2 separate regions of the Homo sapiens genome follow, and region 2 is linked to region 1. Evidence: fine-mapped expression QTL. A gene starts in region 1. The other region holds a variant in brackets. All regions are shown on one strand. Distances are from middle to middle. Region 1 holds the start of LINC00624 (long intergenic non-protein coding RNA 624). Region 2 has its middle 76 kb from the start of NBPF12.

Region 1 (11,288 bases):
ACATACATTAACTTGTTTTAAGCCCCACAAAAGGTTAACTTGTTTTAACCCCACAAAAAGGTTAACTTGTTTTAACCTTTTGAGGTAGGTGTTCTGTTATCAACCCCATTTCACAGACAAGGAAACTGAGGCACAGAGAGGCATAGAAAGATTCACTAACCTGCCAAAGTGGCAGCGATGGAAGCCACTGAGCCCAGATTCAAATCCAGGGAGTCTGGCTCCAGCATCCATGTTCCTTATCATGATTTTACTTCCTTTGGAGTGGTAATAAGGTTATTCTAATTTTATAGATTTATTTATTCATTCAGCAAATATGTATTGCCAGGTGCAATACGAGGCTCTAGGGCTCTTGTAGAGAATAAGGCAGACTTCACGGAGCTCCTATTCTAGATAAGGAAACACTGGCCCTGGAAGTTAAGTATTTGTGGAGCAAGGGTTGTTTAGCCTATAAACAGCTCTGGGACCCTTGGGTCTGACTCTCAGGCTAATGGTCTTAATCCTAGGCCGTACTGCTTCCCTGAAGAGAGTCCCATATTACAGGTCCGGGAAGACTTTGTAAGGATTCCTGCAGGTGGGCAGGCTGTGGTGACCTGAAGCGCGCCACAGCAATGACCAATGTCATTCTCTCACCTTTCCTTCTCTGCTGTCCCCTCTCCCTTCTTCTCCTTATCACTTTCATGTGCCTTCAAGTGTACAAGGGTAGAATCTGACGGGGGCACTCAGGGCCAGAGAGATTGCTGCGAAGAAAAAGCCCACCCCCACCGCTCTCTCCAAGCATTGCATTGCCTCAGCCATCTTTAAACTACCTGAACTTTTAAAAATGTTGCCAGAAAAAAACTATTTAACAATCCTTTCTTCACGCTCTCCAATTATCTTTCTCCTCTTACCTCCCCACAAAATTCAAGGCCTTCTACAATCCTCGTAAGAGGAAAGTTCTGTCCTGCCCCAGTCTCTCATATCATGTCCTCCTCTGGACTGAGTGGGCACCCTTGTACTTCCTGCCTTTTCGAGAAGGTAAGTTGCCCTGCTTCTCTAAGGGTGCAGCCTAGAGCTGTTTTTCAAACTCATATCCCTTTGGTTGCTTATCTTATTTTACTTTTTTTTTTTTTTTTTTTTGAGACAGGATCTTGCTCTGTCACTCAGGCTGTAATGCAACTTGTAGTTCACTGTAACCATGAATTTCTGGCCTCAAGCAATCCTCCTGCTTCAAGTGACCCTCCCACTTCAGCCTCTCAGAGTGCTGGGATTACAGGCATGGGCCACCATGCCCTGCCCTTTGGTTGCTTTAGATCCTCTCCAAGTTCTTGTTATCACACTTCACTTGTGAGGCATAAAACTCAGCATGATCTATGTTCGGAAAGAGTCAGGACTATTACTAAGATCAGGCCAACTTCTGAGCAGGGCTTCTGGTGAATACACTCTGGGGCTGGGTGGGCTGGTGGTTCTGGGAAGATCCCAGCCCAGTGCTGAGGTCTGAGAACTTAAAGAGGTGGTAGGGATGGGAGTCCCACAAAGGATGTTTCAGGGAGGCTGAGGGTCAGCTTCCTCCCTCCCTGCAGTCCTGGGCCTGGGAATGCAAGAACCCTTTTCAAACTTTCACAGATGTCTGAAGGAACTGGGGAAGGAGAGGAGGGCTTGGCTATGTCACTCTCAGTGAAATGTTCCCTACCACATGGGTGTGAGGCTTCCCATCACTCAGGCTTCAGGGAGCTCTCTAAAGACCCCTGGTGGCTCTAAGAGAAGTCCCCATAGGATTGATCAAATGCGGGAGCCAGTTGTGGGCTTCGGAGGTGTAGTAAAGAGAATCTGCACATTCTCCCTGTGCCATATTGCTCGGCTTTCTCCTATCTCTGGAACAGCTACTTTTCAGGGATATAGGGAAAAAGCAACAAGCCCATTTTTAACTTCATTCCATGTTCCCTCCCAAAAAAGGGCTTGTACAGGTGGTTGAATTGGGGGAGTTACGCTAAGAAGTAGGATTGGGACATTTGGGGTCTGTGAAGGCTGAAAGAAGGAAGAAGGAGAAGCCAATCCATGGTTACTTTATCGGATCGTCACTGTGGGCAACCAGAGCTCAATCCTACTTAGAAGGCTATGAAGCCCCTGTAGAATGCATCTCAGACTTGGCAGCCTGCAGGGTGGAAGAGGGAAGTATTAATCTACCAGCGTCTGCTCCCATTGATCCAGTATTGTCCTTTGGGTGATAACTTCCCCATACTCTCAGGTTTGCATGTGTATCAGAATGGCCAAGCAGGTTCTTGCAGGCAGATGTGGCAAAGAAACCGGGAACAGAAGGTGAACACTGCTCTCTGCATCCAAAGACACGGCGCGGCCAGGTTTCACTTGCTCACAGCTGGTTGCTACAGCAATGGCTGAAACAATAAGGTGGGCCCAAAGGAGGTATGTGGGGCACTGGATTCAGGGGATGAATCCTCTTTCCACCTCCCTCCACCTTCAGATTCAGATCCTGCCAATTCGTCAAAGACTAACTCAGTCCCCTCCTGAGAAGTTCTTCTAAAGGAATCTGACCATAGCCAACTTTTCCCTTTAAACTCTCAGAGCAGTCACTACATAGAACTTATTTTTGCTTGATCTGTATAATATACTACGATCATTTCACTCCTTGGATAATAACTTATGGTCAGAGATTTCATGAACCCCAACCCCAGGAGCTTGTACAGCAGTGGATGCAAAACAGGCCTGTCAGTGTTCATTGCATTGAATGGTATAACAATTATAGATAATAAGAGCTCTGCACTTTTTAAGCATTTGCTTCCTTGTCAGCACCATAAGCTAAGTTATAGGAATGGAAGAAGAGAACCTGAGTGAAGGTTTTATTTGGGGCTCTGGATTTTAAATTTAACCTCCAGAACCATGACACTTTCCTGCTCCTCAAGGTCTTCAAGTTATCTCTGCAGCCTTCTGTTTGAAGACATTGGTGGTGCTGGACTGGCCTTTCCAGCTGGTCATTTCTTCCCAGCCCTTTTTCTCACTTCAGCCTGGCACACCCCCTCCTCATGATGCCTTCCTGGGTCAGATCCACTCAAGTCACTGAATTCAACTCCACATGTATCAACCCAGAGCCTTATGTGGCTAAGTCCAATGATGCACTATCCCTTCTCCTGGGCAAAAATAAAAGCAATAAGATTTTCTTCCCAATGTCCCTCTAGAATTAGTAATGAACTTGCCCTGCTCTATCCAAATCCTTTTGCCATTCTCTGATGTTGACTCATAGGCAAAATGAGTGATTAGGGCAGTGGCCTGTATCAGCGGAACTAAGCTTACTGCCATTTTGAGACAAAGGTAACTGGTCTTTTGGGATTTGAACCAATGACCTGGACCTCATTGGCACAATGCTTTAGCTGACACAGACTAGCCCATCATCTACTTTTTGTTATCTATTCTAAAGAAGGGGTGCACTGGACATGAATAATAGAAGCCGTAGGTAATTCAACTCAACGAAAAGCTAATGAGGGCATATGGTAAGCCAGGCCTTGTGTTACACAGCAGGGTACTCTGAAAAGACCTTCATATTTGGCATCGGAGATCCTGGGTTTGAATCACGGCTCTACCATTTGTTGGCTACGTGATCTTAGGTGAGTCACTTGACTGCTAGGTGTCTCAGTTTTCTCATGGGTGGGATTTTATTGAGGATCAGATGAGATACAATATGTGAAAGCACTTCTAAACAGTTGAGTGTGAGATATTGTTAGTTTTTATGTAAAGAACAGGACCCGATCTCTACCTTTAAGGCTTTTACCTTTTGTCTGAGTCTGATAGGATTGGATTTCTTCCAGAGAGAAAATTTCCTTGAGGAATAAGCTCAGGGCTCCAGTCCACTCGAGCAGAAGGGAACCTTCTTGTGGGAAGAAGTCGTCTTCCCTCCATGTGGTCTAACTTCCCAATCAGGGAGGAGGCTGCTGGTGTCCATCCATCTGAGCAGGTGGCAGCTGACTGCCATAGGTAAGGGCACACAGCCTGGAATATGCATTCATGGATTACAGAGAATTCACAGATCTCTCTGGGTAGACCCCCCAGGTAGGATATATGTAGATATTTTGGAGCAAATTGTTCTAGACAAACGGTTTAAAAATCAAATTTTCCAGGCTGGGCGTGGTGGCTCATGCCTGTAATCCCAGCACTTTGGGAGGCCAAGGTGAGAGGATCACCTGAGGTTGGGAGTTCGAGACCAGCCTGACCAACAAGAAGAAACCCTGTCTCTCCTAAAAATACAAAGTTAGCCGGGCATGGTGGTGCATGCCTGTAATCCCAGCTACTGGGGAGGCTGAGGCAGGAGAATTGTTTGAACCCGGGAGGCTGAGGTTGCAGTGAGCTGAGATGACCCATTGCACTCCAGCCTGGGCAACAAGAGCGAAACTCCGTCTCAAAAAAAAAAAACTAAAAAAAAAAATACGGCCGGGCGTGGTGGCTCACGCCTGTAATCCCAGCACTTTGGGAGGCTGAGGCAGGCAGATCACAAGGTCAGGAGATTGAGACCATCCTGGCTAACATGGTGAAACCCCATCTCTACAAAAAATACAAAAAAAGTTAGCTGGGCGTGGTGGCGGTCGCCTGTAGTCCCAGCTACTCGGGAGGCTGTGGCAGGAGAATGGCATGAACCTGGGAGGCAGAGCTTGCAGTGAGCCGAGATCGCGCCACTGCACTCCAGTCTGGGCGACAGAGCAAGACTCCATCAAAAAAAAAAGAAAAAAAATCAAATTTTCTCCTAATTGACAGAAACCTTCTCCCCATAAGTCCCACTCAATTTGAGAAGATGTGTACATTTTGACCGGTAACCAGTCAGACCTTAAACAACTAATTAAGTTGTAGAAATATTAATGGCCGTGCTCATGTTTGTCTAGAACTTAATGAAGCACATGAGGTGAGAAACTAGAACTAAACGAAGCACATGAGGTGAGAAACTAGAGTTACCCAAGTTTGGAAATCTTATAAAGTGGTTAGTGTTCAGGAAAGGTGGAAGAAAATTGAGAGGCTTTAAAAAAAATCAAGATTGGGAATATTAGAGAATGTAATCCACTAGAAAAATCATTCAGCTGGGAATAAATGAGAAATAGATGAATGAAAAAATTCTCTCATTTCTTTCTTTGGCATGTATTGAGTATGATGTGGTAGGACATGTTCTAGCAGCTGGGGTATGTAGTAGACCCCTGTTGTCTGGTGGAGCACGCATCCCCCAGTTACTAAGGAGTCACAGCTGCACCCTTCTCTGGAGCCCTGCAGCAGGGAAGCACTCCCCCCAGCTATGCCTGGGAGATTATGCTGCCTTCATCCCACACACACACACTCTAGGAGCAGCTTGCAGCCAATGCCCAGTTGTTGGGGATGGGGGTAAAAGCACAGTCCCCTTGTCTCAAGTGGGCTGACTCTGTGATGTTATTCAAGCTCCAAAGTGCCCCCTGGAATCAGGCTGAGGCTAGACCCACAGCTTGACTGATCTCCCCAGCCCTATCCAGTTTCCCTCACTCATATGAATTTCATCCTCAATAAATCACTTGAGTAAGAAGAATTCTCACCTCAGGGTCTTCTTCTAAGGAACCCAAGTTAAGACAATGGGCAATGCTGAATAAATCAGAAGTAGTCTCCCTCTGGGAACTTGTACTGGGGGAGGATACAGACAAATACACAAGCATTTATAATGTAGAGTCACAATGGTAGCTTCAGAAGATTCATGGTGCTCTGGGAACAGGAATGGTCACAGAGTGTTTCTTTAGAGTTGAACATTTCTGAGCTGAGAACTGAAGTATAACTAGGAGCTGGCTGGGTAAAGAGGTGGGGGAAATAAAGAATTTCTCAAGCAGAGGAAAAAGAAGATATGGAGGACGAATGGAAGATACTGCAATATATGCCCCCCAAATCATAAACGGTTCAGTATGACTGAAGCCAAGGGTGACAGTAGCAAGAAAAGACACCAGATACAGATTATGAAGGGCATAGTGAGATATTAACACATTTCTATTGTATCCCTGGGCAAAGGAAAAATAATGAAGAATTTTAAGTGGAGGACACATGATAAGGAGAGGTGAAGCCAGCTGGACTTCCTGTGTCGAGTGGGGGACTTGGAGAAATTTTCTGTCTAGCTAGAAGATTGTAAACACACCAATCAGCACTCTGTAAAAATGGACCAATCAGCACTCTGTAAAATGGACCAATCAGCTCTCTGTAAAATGGACCAATCATCACTCTGTAAAATGGACCAATCAGCTCTCTGTAAAATGGACCAATCAGCAGGATGTGGGCGGGGCAAATAAGGGTATAAAAGCTGGCCACGCGGAGCACCCAGCCAGCTGCTGCAACCCGCTGCCCTCTGGTGTCCTGCTGTGGGAGCTTTGTTCTTTCACTCTCGTAATAAGTCTTGCTGCTGCTCACTCTTTGGGTCCGCACTGTCTCTGTGAGCTGTAACACTCACCGCGAGGTTCTGTGCCTTCGTTCTTTAAGTCAGGGAGACCACGAACCCACCGGGAGGAACAAACAACTGTGATGCGCCATCTTTAAGAGCTGTAACATTCACCGCCGGGGTCTGCGGCTTCATTCCTGGAGTGAGTGAGACCACGAACCCACCAGAAGGAAGAAACTCTGGACCCATCTGAACAGCTGAAGGAACAAACTCCGGACACACCATCTTTAAGAACTGTAACACTCACCGGGAGTCTCCGTGGCTTCATTCTTGAAGACAGCGAGACCAAGAACCCACCAGAAGGAATGAATTCCGCACACAGTAAGATTTCTATTTTTAAAAAATCTCTGGGCTGTAGAACGGGAAAAAAAAGACTTGGAAGGCAAAGCTGATAGTAGGGATACAACACCAGTTAATATTTCAGTTGTTGTATTATAGGTAAGGGCTAGAGTATTGGCATTGGAGAGACGGACTAAATTCTCAGCTCCAACCCTTACCAGCTTGGGTAAGTTATTTATTCTCTTTAAATTTCAATTTCCTTAATGGTAAAATGGGGCTACAGTAATAACCAGAGCAGATACGCACATTCAAGGATCTAATGTATGAAAAGGGTTTTATTATTTTTGCAACAGTTGGCACCCTGGAAGCACCATCAAAATGATCTGTTATTATCCATGTGATCTTAACTTGGGCAACAGTAGTGGAAATGGAAAGACAGATCGCTGGTGCTGTGGCACACACCTGTAGCTCCAGCTTTTCAGGAGGCTGAGATGGGGATCACTTAAGTCTAGCTTGGGCAACATAGCAAGACTCCATCTCTAAAAAAAGTGTAGATGGATTAAAAAATGGTAGGAGGTGGAATTAAAGGGTTGGATGTGGAAGTGGAAATGAAAGAAAGTGAGGTGTCAAGGGTTTCTGGCTTGGGCAGCAGCAGGTAGGTTGCAGCATATTTTCTTGAGATAGGACTTTAGGAGGAGGTAAATATTCTGAATGGAAGCTGTAGAACTGGATGTGCTGCTTTTGAAGAGCCTATGAGATACCCAAAGTGGAATTGTCTGGAAAGTAGTTGTACAAGAGAGGCTGAAGTTGAGGAGAGAGATCTGGGTAGAACATACATAGGTAAGGTAGAGAGAAGAACTCAGACAGTGTGTACTGAGAATAGAGAAGAGGGCGAGGCACCGCACTGGACCTGGGAGACAAAGGTGAGAAGACAAGACACCCACTCTCAGGAAACTCAGTCTGGTTGGGGAAGCAGATAATTAAACAGATAATTAGAATACAGTGGAATACACCCCATAGGTTGTTTTGGACCAAACCTGTGGGGTGGATCCCAGCAGTTGAAGGAACTGAATGAAGATAGAACAAGGACTCTAAAGGTCAGAGCTAAAATTGGAAATACTCAACAGGGTGGGGATGGGGCAAGGAAGGAAAGGGTGGAACAACTTGGAAAAGATTTTGAATGCTCTTAAACCAGAGACAAAGTAATTGACTGGAACATCGCAGCATTAGGAAGAATGTTAGTGCTCTTGGATTCCATGCTTCTCAGACCGTGCTATCTTGGAATCCTCACAGTTCTGAGGGGCCCCTATAATTAGAGGCCACCATAGTGGAGGAGTTGAAACCAAGCAGACACCCTACTAAACCAGAGTTGTTGTCTTGTTTTGCACATTAAAACTGTGTACAAGCTTTGTTTTGAAAAAAAAAGTTGTTATGCCTGAAAAAGAATTGAAAACTACCAACTTAAGTAAATTAATGTACAGATAAAGAATAAGAGGCCCAGAGAAGCTAAGTCACATGCTTAAAATCAAATCATACAGCTCATTAGGGATCAAGTTGGGCCTAGAACCTAAATTTTTTGTTCTCAGGCTGGTGTTCTTTCTTGCTATGTCTGAGACCTCGTACTTCTAATTTGCCTAGTCCATATTCATTTGTATCTTCAGATTTTTCTGAACTGTAGTAAAAGAGATGTGTATTTCAAACATCATGAGAACAAGGCGTGGGAGGGATCTTACAGAGCAGCAGTTAAAATCATTGCTGGCATGTGGTCTTTCACAATAAAATTCTCCCCTTCCTTTTGATTCCTCTAGGCAACAGCACAAAGTTAAACCAGGAAGTCCCTCTGCCTTGCTAGGGATCCAGGTTTGCCTTCCTGTTGAGGTATCCCATTTCATTACAGTTGACCTAAGTTTGAACAAACACTGCCACCTGATGCATGAAAGCTCTACTGTGACCTACGTTAAAAGGTAATTTAAAAAAAAACGAAACATAGAATCATGACTCATACAGATTGAACATGAACATGTGTTAGAGATTTTATTTAACTCAATCTATGAGAGAACTAGGCAGATATTATAACTGGATCAAAAGAGAATACAAAGAACATGTATAGATCAAGAATATTGAATGCACAAAAAAAGGGCAAAACTGACTTCTTCCACAGAGGGAGCGGGAATCAATTGAACCTCTACCAGAAGGGACAAAACTTGAATGTTTACAGAGAATAATTATTTTGCAATGCTATCAGCTAGCTACAGTTTACAAAGTTGTGAAATAGCTCCCATAGAATCCAAATCAGATAAAAGATAGCAGAAGGGTGTGTGATGGACAACACATAGTTTTCCAAATATGTGCAGACATTTTCCTTACAACTGTTAGAAAAGCAGAAGTATCTTTTACAATAAAACATGGGCATCCCAGGTTCCTTTTTCTGTTTTATATACATGCAAAAATATACAAGTGTGTATGTGCATATGTATTTGCATATGCTTTTTAAAATAAAAATTTCACAAAAAAGAACTTAATCCTGTATTCATGCAATGTACCCTGATACTTTTTATTCTATTCTTTGTTAATGCTGGTATCCACACAAATTAATTTCGTGACTCCTTAATGGGTTACTACCCACGAATGGGTCAAGGATTCACAGTTTGTAAACGGGACTAGATCAGTGCTCCTCAAACTGTCTGTTGTGAAGCACCAGTTTTTAAATATTTGACAGTTTTCAGTCCTTCACATACTGACTGATGCTTTTGTAAAACACAATAAAAATAAATTATTAGAAAAATGAAATGAAAAAACTCCCATAGACTTATGAAATGCAAGCTCAACTTTTTATTATTAGATTTAACAGACATAAAATTGGATGCTGGGGCAAGGTCAAATTCCTATTTAAAGATTTCCAAATGCATATTTTGTTTCTATGCTTTGTTTCTGCACACTGGAACAGTGGTGGATTCCACTGGTCCTTGGACCACACTTTGAGTAGCACTGACTAAGTGACCAGCTCTGACAGTATGGTGATTTTTTGTTTTCCAGGAGCTGACACTCCCTCAGGCTACCTTAGTCAGTGGGGGCTTACTGCAGCATACCTGTGGCGATGAGAGAGAGAGGCACATCACAGGAGCATCTGGCACCAGTGGCATCCTGGTGAGTGAAATGTCATATGGACACTGGAAGGATCTAACACTGAGGTGGCCCTTCATCTCTGTGCTGTTCACCACGAGCATGCCTGGGCTGCTCTTCTGTGTTCTTCCTGATGTTTCTCATGATACTGATTGATTTTTGGAATTTCCCAGTTCGTATTCCCAAGAGAACCCATTGCCCTATTTAATCATCACTTCTGTTGCTGCAGAACTTTGTGCAGTACTGGGATTGCTTGCTGCCTTAATGTCAGGAGTTGGCCAGGCATCCAGTCAAAGGGCAGAGTAGGCTCTTGTGGTATCGAAATGGCCACCCTCCTTCAAGGAGCAGCAGGTCCTCTTCCTCAGCACAGAAGGCAATGGTGAGGAAGAGGCTAATTTTCCTTTGAAGAGGATTTTGAGAAAAGGTTGGCCCATCTAAAATATTTTACAATTCTCTGTTCCCAAACCCTGAATAATCCTTGGAGGTCACTCACTGTGCAGGAGGCTGAAGAAGGGTAACACTGTCAAAACTGCAGACACAGACCCTTCTGGCTCCACCTCTATCCTACCCTAGAGCTAGGTTAAAGAGAGACTCTGGAGAACTTACTCATACCCAGTGGGGTACTTCTACATTTCTCTAAAGTCAGGAGACACTTTCCCTTTGTGAATATTTATACTTCTGAAGACATTTGCAAATCTTTAAACTCTTGGTTAAACAATAGTTTATACTGTCCCCCTATAATTCAGAAAAGCATAACTTCAAAAGAATGATGACAAACTTGGCCGGGTGTGGTGGCTGATGCCTGTAATCCCAGCACTTTGGGAGGCCGAGGCGGGCGGATCACCTGAGGTCAGGAGTTTGAGATTAGCCTACCCAACATGGCGAAACCCCGTCTCTACTAAACATATAAAAAATTAGCCAGGCATGGTGGCGGGCACCTGTAATCCCAGCTACTGGGGAGGCTGTGGCAGGAGAATCACTTGAACCTGGGAGGTGGAGCTTGCAGTTAGCCGAGATAACGCCACTGCACTCCAGCCTGGGCGACAAGAGTGAAACTCCGTCTCAAAAAAAAAAAAAAAAAGACAAACTCAATGAAACACATAGAACAATCAAGGTGTACAGAGATGTAGACAGTGGTAGTGAACAATTCTCTACCCAAAGCTGAAGGAGAGTCATTGCCCACCATAAGTCAATCCAAATCTGAGAAAATTACAACTTAACCCCTTTACTTTAAGGGTTGCCCATGAATAGTCATAGCTAGTTATGTCAAATCCTTAAATGCTGGAGTCCGTGTTTACATCTTTACCCATATCCTTTCATCTATTTCATTTCATACCAAAATGAACAGACCCATTACATGTTTAGATTTTCTAGGCTTGTCCACATCTCCCATATAAAAGATGTAATGTGTATAAAGTGCTTAATACAATGTCTGCTGCATAGTAAGCACTCCATAAATGTTAACTCTGAC
Region 2 (11,288 bases), 660 kb after region 1:
TCCTGGTCTATCCTTCATTTTTAAATTGTTCCCCAAAATCGGCAGAATAATGGGAACTATTTAGAAATAGTTTTACTAGATATAAAATTCCTTGTTGATAATTTTTTTTTTCAGCACGTTGAATATGTCATCACACTGTCTTCAGGCCTCCGAAGTTTCTAATGAGAAACCAGCCATTAATCCTTCTGCCTTCCAGATGATCTGTCTTTGTATTTCAACAGTTTGGTAATGATGTGTCTAGGTGTGGATTTTTTTGAGTTTATCCTACTCAGAATTCAGCTTTCTGGATATTTAATTGTTTTCATTAAATTTGGGAAGTTTTAGGGTGTTCTTTCTTGAAATATTCTTTCTCTTATTTTCTCTCTTCTCTCCTTCTGAGATTCCCATTACATGTATTTTGCTATGCTTGATAATCTCTTATGGGAATCTGAACTTCTGTTCATTTTTCTTCATTCTTTTTCCTTTTTGTTCTTCATATTGGATAATCTCAATTGCTCCATCTTCAAGTTTGCTGATTTTTTCTTTTTCTTTTCAACAATTTTATCCCATCTGCCACAGCTGATTTTCTTTTACCATAACAAATCTGCTATTGAGCCCCTGTTGTGAAATTTTTCATTTCAGCTATTATGTTTTTCAACTCCAAAATGTATATTTTTATAATTTCTATATCTTTATTGATATTCTCTATTTGGTGAGACATTGTTCTCATACTTTGCTTTAGTTATCTAGACATGGTGTCCTATAGTTCTTTGAACATATTTTAAATAGATGGTTTCAAGTATTTGTCTATTAAGTCCAACATCTGGGCTCCCTCAGAGACAATTTCTATTCATTGCTTTTTTCCCCGTATATGAGTTATATGTTCTTGTATCTTTTCATGGCTCATATTTTTTTAGTCAGAAACTGGAGATTTAAAATAATAAATGTGGCAACTGTGAAAATCAGATCCTCCCTCCCCCAGGGTTGGTTACTGTTGTTACTCTTAGTTTGTTTAGTAACTTTTTCAGTAAAGTCTATATTCTTATTTATGCATGGCCAATAAAGTTTCTGCTCAGTTAGTTTAATGGTCAGCTTATGATTGAACAGAGATTCCCTTAAATGCCTGGAACCAATAAGTCTCCCAGCTTTTGCTGAGGGGCTGTGTGTGTGTGGCAGGACATGCCTTTGACACTCAGGCAGGCAGTTGCCAATTCTGCTTTATCTTTCCTGGGACCCAAAGGTTAGTCAGAGGTAAGAGCTTAGGGCCTTCTCAGGTCTTTCCTGAGCAGTAACAGCCTGGAGGTATACACATCTTACACATGCATGGCTGTCTAGATTCCAGGGAATATGCTGAAGCTTTTCAGAGCCCCCCATGAATATCTTCTTCCCAGTCTCTCCTTTTAAATTTTTAAATGAACTTCTTGTTTGCTCCTAAGGTCAATGCTCCCTCAGTCAGCTGCAGTGTTAAACAATTACAACTGATTGTTTTTGAGCAAGCCTGGAGTCAGGTCAAATAAAAGCTATCCCTATGAGGGGGGGTTTCACTGAACTTCTAGACAGGTCAAATAGTGACAACTCTTTTAGAATGGGGGCTTTTGGGGAGTTGCAATCTGTTCTACCTCCTCCAGGGTCTGATTGATTGCTGACTTTCACTTTGATTGCCAAATTGTTGGTTTTCAAGGCTACTGCAGAGCTGGGATGAGGGAGGAGGGAGAGAATAGGGCAAGTCAAAATACCACAAAGCTCACTGCCTTTATGGGTATTCAGCCATTTTTCTTGAATAAATACTCCGAGAATTGTTGCAAGCCTATTATTAATTTTCAGAGTTCTGAAAAAGTTGATTTCGAAAATTTTTTCCAGTGGTCTCATTGCTATTGAAAAGCAGCATTTTGGATGTCCTTCTCTGCCATTCCTGCTGACATCACCATTCTTTTTTTTTTTTTCATTCAATAATTCATCTTAGAAAACATTGTACATATTCTTTCCCTGCCCCATCTATCACTTTTATTTATTTTAGTGGGTGAATGTATTGCAATATAATTGCTTTTCAATCCACACTTACTCCCCAGGCACCTAACCATTGTTGAAGCCTTTGTACTAGACATTGTGAGGCTGTGTCCAACACAGCTACCCTCTAGGAGCTTCTGGACACATGGAGAAGACAAAGAACACACAGGAGAATTAACTTGCCAAGGCAGCATGCTGAGAGTACTTTTGGAGTTTGGACAATGTTAAATGGACTCACCTTGATTATGAGTTCCAGGTCTGTCAAGACACACTTCTTTAATGGTTGAAAAGACAGGGTGGCATGTACACTCTGTCCTACATCCACAGTGCTGTCGATGGGTGAAAATTCCAAGTACTGCAGCAAGGTTTTGGAGCCACACAGCTGTGCCTGGAAGCTGAAGGTGAACTTTCCAGTGTTGATAAAGTTGAATTCACACTGGACACATTCATTTAACTCCACCTAGGAGACAGAGAACAGAGCAGTGAATGCAAACCATAGTTCCCTTGTCTGGGGTCAGCATTTGTAACATGTTGATGAAAAATATCCTTTGGGAAATAAGGATGGCAGATGATGTTGGTGATTTGACTATCTTTAGCTTAATGGAGTCAGATATTCCAGCAGGAGCTACTAAGTATTGGGGTTCTTTCAATATCTCATGGAGCAAAGTGGCAATTTAGTTCTTAGTCCTTTGTTGGTAGTCAAATATCCTTCCTGTATGTTTAACACAAGCACTCTTTCTTCTCCCCACCATCTCTCCACCCCCCCTGAAAATAAAATAAGAAAAGCATTCACATCATATCTACATACATTCTGGGGATAGAGCTGCTCTTGGAGTGTTTCTGTTTTCCTGGTCTCTCTGGCATTTGAAGCAGAAAGACTCAGCTCATATTCATTTTTACTACTTTCCCCAGTCAGAATGGAAGCTGAGATAGATAGCAAGGTCTTCTTACACCTTTACCTCATAGAAGTTGATGATGTTAGTCTGGTTGGGAGTCAACAGAGTGATGGAGCCTGTCCTGTCCTTGCACTTGATCTCCACATTCATAGTGTAGCCCTCGGCCTTGACATTTAATGTCACAGGGTGGACTTTCTTTTCCACATTGCAGATCAAATTAAAGTTCACATCTCCTTGCTGCTTTGGAGTGAAGAAAATATCAATTGGGAACCTGGTTGGGGAACAAAACAGCAGATTACCTGACTAGGCCAACTTGTCAAAACCTTAAAAAATATGAGCCTACTGAATTAGCAGATTCATTACGAGGAAAAGGAAACTCCAAATTATGATGACATTTTAAGATTTGTGGCTATAGTAACCAAAACAGCGTGGTACTGGCATAAAAACAGACACACAGACTAATGGAAAAAGATAGAGATCCCAGAAATAAAGTCACACACCTACAATCATCTGATCTTTGAAAAAGTCAACAAAAATAAGCAATGAGGAAAGGATTCCCTATTCAATAAATGATGCTGGGATAGCTGGCTAGCCATAAGCCAGAAGAATAAAATAAGACCCTTACTTTTCACCATATACAAATATTAACTCAAGATGGATCAAAGATTTAAATGTAAGACCTCAAACTATACGAAAACTAGAAGAAAACGTAGAAAACACCATTGTAGACATCAGCCTTGGGAAAGAATTTATGAATGAGTCTTCAAAAGCACTTGCAATAAAAACAAAAATCGACAAGTGGGACCCAATCAATCCTGCAAAAAAAAAAAAAAAAAAAAAAAGAGTAAGAAAGGAAAAAAGCTGCTGCATAGCAAAAGAAACTACAAACAGAGAAAAAATGCAACCTACAGAATGGGAGGAATTATTCAGAAACTATGCATCTGACACAGGTCTAATATCCAGAATCTCTAAAGAACTTAAACAATTGAAGAAGCAAAAAACAAGTAACGCCATTAAAAAATGGGCAAAAGACATGAATAGACACTTCTCAAAAGGAAACAGAAAAGTGGCCAACAAACATATAAAGAAATGCTTCACATTACTAATCATCAGAGAAATGCAAGTCAAAACCACAATGAGATAACATCTCACACCAGTCAGAATGGCTATGATTAAGAAATAAAAAACAACAGATCCTGGCGAGGCTGCAGAGAAAAGGGAACACTTATACACTATTGGTGGGAATGTAAACTCGTTCTGCCACTGTGGAAAGCAGTTTGGAGATTTCTCTAAGAACTTAAAACAGAACTATCATTCAACACAGCAATCTCTTTACAAAAAACAAAGCAATCTCATAAAAAACAAAACAAAACAAAACAAAAAAGCCAAAAAACCCAAAGTCATTCTACCAAAAAGACAACATGCACTCTCATGTTCATTGCAGCACTATTCACAATAGCAAAGACATGGAATCAATCTAGGTGCCTATCAACTGTAGACTGGATAAAGAAAGTGTGGTACATATACACCGTAGAATACTACACAGCCACAAAAAGAATGAGGTAATTCTTTGCTGCAACATGGATGCAGCTGGAGGCCATTATCCTAAGCAAATTAATGCAGGAACAGAAAGTGAAATACCTCATGTTCTTATTTATAAGTTGCAGCTAAACATCAGGTACACATGGACGTAAAGATGGCAACAAAAGAAGCTGGGGATTACTAGGGGGAGGGGAGGAAGGGAGGCAAGAGTTGAAAAACTAACGATTGGGTACTAAGCTCAGTACCTGGGTGATGGGACCATGTGTACCCCAAACCTATACAGTAAATCCAGTAGCAAACCTGCATGCATATCCCTTGAAACTAAAATAAAAGTTGAAAAAACCCCACAAAACTTTGACGTAAATCTCATACCTTATAAGTTAATAAAAAAGGGGTTACAGACTGAAATGTAAAGCTACACAACTTACGGAAAAAATAATGGAAGGACATTTTCTGAATCTAGGGCTATTCAGAGATATAGAACAGACACTAAAAGGACAGTCCATAAAAGGACAAATAGATAATTTGGACTTCATCAAGAATAAAAGGTTTTGCTCTGTGAATGACCTTGTTAAGAAGAGCAAAAGACAAGCCACAGACTGGGAGAAGATATTTGCAGATCATGTATCCACCAAAGGAGCACTACCTAAACATGTAAAGAACTCTCAAAAATCAACAATAAAAAACAAACAGGCTGAGCAGGAAACTGGAAAGAGACATGAAGAGACATTTCACTGAGGAGGATCCATAGAAGGAAAACAAGCACATATGTGTTGTATGAAAGGAGAGAAGGTTAGCATTTCCCTTGACAATGACGGAAGAGGCCCTCAGGCCTGACAACACACATACAGAAAATAAGCACATGTAAAGATGTCCGACATTATTAGTCATTAGGAAAATGCTAATTAAAACTACAATGAGATATCCTTACACATCTATCAGAAAAGCTAAAATAAAAAATTGTTGCCGGTTGCAGTGGCTCATTCCTGTAATCCCAGCACTTTGGGAAGCCAAGGCGGGTGGATCACTTGAGGTCAGGAGCTCGAGACCAGCCTGGCCAACATGGTGAAACCCCATCTCTACTAAAAAAAAAAAAAAAAAAAAATTAGCCGGGCATAGTGGTGCGTGCCTGTAGCCCTAGC[C/T]ACTCGGGAGGCTGAGGCAAGAGAATTGCTTGAACCTGGGAGGCGGGGGTTGCAGTGAGCCAAGATCACACCACTGCACTCCAGCCTGGGCAACAGAGCGAGACTCTGTCTAAAAATAGTAATAAAAAAATTGTGACACCACTAAATTTTGGTGATGTTGTGGAGATTCTGGAACATTCAGAGATAACTAGTGGAATGTAAAATGGTTCAGCCAGTCTGGAAAGCATTTTCACAGTTTTTTTTCTTTTTTTTTCTGGAAACATGCCATTATCGTATGTCCATTAATTGCACTCTTGCTCATTTTCCCCAGTGACATGAAGACACAAAAAATCTGTACATGAAAGTTTATAGTAGCTTTATTCATAACAGCCCAAACCAGGAACAATCCAGATGTCCTCCAGTGGGTGAATAGTTCAACTAACTGTGGTGCATCCCTACTATGGAATGGTAGCCAGTCATAAAAAGGAAGAAACTCTCAAAACTACCTGGATGTATGTTGGAGAATTATGAGTGAAAAAAGCCAATCACAAAAGGAATGTATGTGTCTGTGAATACAACATTCCTGAAATGACAAAATGATAGACACAGAGGAAAGTATTGGATTCCAGAGGGTGAGGAGGTGTTGCTTGGGGGAAGGGAAAGGGTGTGGCAACAAAAGGGTCACATGAGGAATCCTGCGGCAAGGGATCTGTTCTGTGTCTTGACTCGTCAATGTCAATACCAGGTTGTGACATTTTACTGAAGCTTTGCAAGATGTCACCCTTGGGAGAAATTTGGTAAACAGTACAGAGTTATCTTTGTCTTATTTCTTCTTCTTTCTTTCTTTCTTTTTTTTTTTTTTTTGAGACAAAGTCTTGCTCTGGAGTTCAGTGAGGTAATCTTGGCTCACTGCAACCTCTGCCTCCCGGGTTCAAGCGATTCTCCTGCCTCAGCCTCCCAAGTAGCTGGGATTACAGGAATGTGCCACTACGCCTGGCTAACGTTTGTAGTTTTAGTAGAGACGGAGTTTCACCATGTTGGCCAGGCTAGTCTCGAACTCCTGACCTCAGGTGATCCACCCGCCTTGACCTCCCAAAGTGCTGGGATTACAGGTGTAAGCCACCATGCCCGGCAGTCTTTCTATTATTTCTTACAACTACATGTAAATTTACAATTACTTCAAATTTTTAAATTTTATTATTAGTTTTTGAGAGAGTCTCACTCCATTGTCCAAGCTGGAGTGCAGTGGTGCAATCTCAGCTCACTGCAACCTCTGCCTCCTGGGTTCAAGTGATTCTCATGCCTCAGCCTCCCAAGTAGCTGGGATTACAGGTGTGTGCCACCACACCCGGCTAATTATTGTATTTATTTATTAATTTTTTTTTTGAGAGGGAGTTTCGCTCTTGTCACCCTGGCCAGAGTGCAGTGGTGCGATCTCAGCTCATTGCAACCTATGTCTCCCAGGTTCAAGCGATTCTGCTGCCTCAGTCTCTCGAGTAGCTGGGATTACAGGCGCCCGCCAACACGCCTGGCTAATTTTGGTATTTTTAGTAGAGACGGGGTTTCACCATGTTGGCCAGGCTGGTCTGGAACTCCTGACCTCAAATGATCTGCCTGCCGCAGCCTTAATTATTGTACTTTTAATAGAGATTGGGTTTTGCCATGTTGGCCAGGCTGGTCTCAAACTCCTGACCTCAAGTGATTCGCCTGCCTCAGCCTCCCAAAGTGCTGGGATTATAGGCATGAGCCACCATGCCTGGCCTGAAAATTAAATGTTTAATTGAAAAAGAGACTTGCCAGGCAAGCCTGAACATTGCACTGTGGATTCACATATACAGTGAATATAGCAAGGAAAAGAATACAAAGAGAAAATATTGAGATAAAGGGCTTAGAATTCTCAATGCTCCATATTCATCAGGAAAACAGATATCAGGGAGTAAGTAGGATGGAGATGGAATTGTTATGATCTAATCTTAGAGTTGAAAGCAATTATATAAATGGGGCACTGTAAGCACTGGCAGGCTTGGGGTCCTGGGCATGTCAGGAGGATGCAAACAAAATGAGACCTTCATTTTTGTTTACCTGGACAGTGGTGGGATCCAGCCTTCCATGGGACATACAAGCAGGCTGTTGCTGAAACCTTCAGAATAGCGGGAGTTGTCCTGGAAGGAAAAATCGAACCCCTGCTCCTCCTTGTTGATGATCTGCACAGTCTCCCTGGCTTCTCTGCCTGAGGAGGAAACACCAGCCCTTAGTGGGGGCCTCCTGACTGCCTGCTGGAGTCTCTCAGCAGACACCGCTTCACAGGCAAGACATTTAGAAGACATTCCCCAACCTCTTCCGCCTTTGTCTACCTCTCTTCTTTCCTTTTCCTCTACAAGTCACCTTCCTTCTTTCGGGAATTCCATGTCTTTCTTCATCAGTTGCCTGCTTCTGCTGAGTGGCTCCTCTGCCCTGGCCACAGCTCTCCTGGGATTCTGGTGACACCGTTTTCTTCCCTTGCTCCTTTAGACCCAAGAATTGTAATGCCTTCCTGAATTTGTTAATGGGGGCTTCACTCTCCTTGGTTGACCCCCTTAACTGCCCATGTATCTGTAAATAATTCTTGCATCGAATTCTTTGAAAATAGACCTTTGGTATTGGCATGAGTTTCCTGCCCAGGGCTCTGACTAATACATTTTCTCTCACTATCATCTTACGCTTTCCTCTTGGCTATTAGACCATTCATTTTTCCACATAAACTTTAGAATCATTTTATCCAGTTCTCTCCCCTTCCAATTCTTTTGGGATTTGGTTGACAGATTTAGCAAATAATTTTTTGGTATAAATATGTCCCGAGCAATATTTGGACTTACTCAGAATTATTAATTGCTATTTGAAATTAAAATTTATGCATCCTGTATTTTATCTGGCAACCCTAGTTGGGATTCTAATTGGAACTTGATTAAATTTGCATTTAATTTTAGGAGAACTAACAAATGATCAGATCTTGTTTGGGGGATTTTAATCAGATTTGATAGTTTTCTTCATGTAGGTCTTTTTTGTGCATGTCTTATTACATTTATCCTTAGCTATTTTATAGGTTTTGCCAGTACCAAGTGGATGTTTTCTTTGGTTTTCTGTTTCTAGGTGCTAGTGCTAAAAAAGAAGACACTATTTTTGCACATTTGTCTTGCATCTGCCCACCTTACCACATTATTCTGTTGAGTCTAGTAGTTTGTTTTGCTTTTTCTCTAGAGTCTCTTGTGGTTTTATGTGTACAAAATCATCAGTAAAAGCAAAACAAGATGACTTTATCCCTTTTTCCCCAATGTTTATGCAAATTATTTAATTTTCTTGTTTTGTCATATTTGCTAAAGTCTCTAAGCAAGTGTTCAATAATAAGGGTGATAATGAACACCCTTACCTAATTCCTCATTTTAATTGAAGCAGTTTTAGTCATTTATTGCAGGATCATATCTGCCTCTTGATTTTGGTTAACCTTTTTTTCCATCAATGTCCATTTTGCTATTAGAGTTTTTGTTGGGAATGTCTGCTAAATTTTGGCAATGCCTTTTCAGTGTATATTAACATGATCACATGGTTGTTCTTCTTTAATCTATTGATGTAATGATTATATTCAAACGTACCACTGTTGAATTCCTGGATTAAACTCTGTCTCACTGTTGTTATTCTTATGCTACATTGCTTATTTGTTCAAAATCTTAATAAATGCCATAATTCCCCCTCCCACCTAATTATATGTATCGGTAAAAATACACATCCAGCAGTTAACACTGCTTTCCTTTGGAGTGGAAAGAGAAAGATGAGACAGGATGAATGTGGAGAGATTAAACTTTTTCTTATGCAACACCACATTGGTGGATTTACTATAAGAATATTATTTTACAAATACAAATCTAACATATTATTAAAACATACTCTGGCTTTAGTTGTATTTTATACACACAGCAGAGATGTCACAACCATGGGAAAGATACATGGGGTTATAAGGGACATGACAATTACTTCGTTTCACCTTCCCACTGCCTCCTGGCCTTCCTTATTCTCCCTACCCTGCTGTCCTCTTCTCTAAAGCACTTATTACCATCTGACATGGTGTATAGTTTCCTTATGTTTCTTTTGGTAGCCTGTTTCTTATTTCTAGAATGTAAGCATCAGGAAGGTACGGACTTTGGGCTTTATCCATTAGCGTAATCCCAGCCCATAGAAAAGTACCGAGGGCATTCTACAGACTCAGTGATATTTGTTGAACCAAATAAATGCACGAAAGGATGAGAGAGAAATCTGACCACTGTGGCACAGACCAAGAAGCATACAGATACCCCCCATAATCTGGGGGCAAATGCAGGAAGGATGGGCCAACTTGAGGCTCTAGAAATAAACAGTCAGCCCATGCCTTAAAGGAATCTGCCAAGTAGGATCTTTAACAAGGCTCCTAAATTTCCTTAAGCTATTAATTGTAGGTTTAAAAGATACTTGGTGGAAATTAGATTGAGCAGTAAATATTTTGTGGCTTTTTAAAAACTGATTAAGACCCTCTGATATGCTTCTGGAAGGGACCAGGAGAGGTTTCTTATGCAAGGCTGCTCCCAGAGCTCTTGATGACCTTGCCCAGATCATGCCAACTCTAAATACATACCATCAGGACAGCCTTACCAATGAGGAGAGAGCTGAAGTTGAGGTGTGACTTGTTCAGAGAGATGAGAGGTTCGGTAGTTTTGCCTACCAGCAGGAAAGGGACTGTGATGTTGTGCTCGGGAATTAGGAAGGTCCATGATGACTCAGTGATGCCCAGATGGAAAGGTGTGAACTGGAACACGATCTAAGAAGACAATTTGGAACAGAGTGGTAAAAGACACTTCTGTATGCTTACTCCACATGTCCCTGGAGACTTGTCAGCACGAGGGTCATGAGAGTTGATGTTACCAGGCTATTGCTACCTTTCTATAGTCCATGTAAGGGCATGTAGGTGTGGCTGTACCAGAAACGTCAATGTCTATCTGACCTGCCCACATGTCCTCCTAAGGGAGTCTCCCCCATCCACAGCTTCTGCTGGCTAAGCTGTCGTGTTTTGTGCCATGTCTTTGGATGGCATGGCTGTGCCATAGCTGACTGGACCAAAGAGTTGGTACCCATTCCAAGGAAAGACAATCCCCATACTTGTCAATAGCTGGGCACACAGCCAAAGACAATATGATTAGCCGGGCCAGCCAGATTTCTCCCTCAGAAGTTTGAAATTAGAAAATGAGTGGCCAGGCCAGCTGGCAGTGGAGCTGATGGTGAAAGGTACCATGCAGGTGAGCTGGGCCACGGCATGCCATAACCAACTAGCTAAGTGATATTACAAAGTAACTGAAGAATAAATCAATCAATCAAGAGTGAAGAAACTGGTCAGTGGAGAGAGAATGGAGTAGATGGGAAGAGAGAAACAGGCAGTCCCAGGAGGAAAGTCCAACCTCAAAAGCTGCTCCTGGTTCTCTCTGTCTCTTTTTTGAGCTAACCTGAGTGAGTCTCTTTGCAATCAATCAACCAGGACTGAATGAAAGAATAACGGCATTTGGCCAAAAAAGAACCACACAGGTTAACATGCATGGTCTATACCACTGCCAGGACAATGTGGGCAGGTGCTCTGGAGGTGTGTCACCTCAATGATATGACTGTCACTTAAAGACCAGCATGACTTTGGATGATGGATTTTGGAACTTGCCTCTTGGAACTGAGCTCACATTTGAAACATTTC

What was found. PIP is the estimated chance that this variant, and not a neighbour inherited with it, causes the effect.
Region 2: its variant is the best candidate, but not a certain one, in a credible set for the expression of LINC00624 in aorta (GTEx, PIP 0.84).

Annotation. Positions count from the first base shown.
Region 1 is chr1:147,512,891-147,524,178 of GRCh38, reverse strand. LINC00624 (long intergenic non-protein coding RNA 624) reads left to right here and starts at 6,304. Exons shown (of 4, transcript NR_038423.2): 1 at 6,304-6,736; 2 at 8,503-8,658; 3 at 9,731-9,841. RefSeq lists a silencer at 7,907-8,107.
Region 2 is chr1:146,856,752-146,868,039 of GRCh38, reverse strand. It overlaps the pseudogene LOC124900456. Among named protein-coding and RNA genes, the nearest start is that of NBPF12, 76 kb to the left of the region's middle. The variant C/T (reference allele first, on the strand shown) is at 5,567.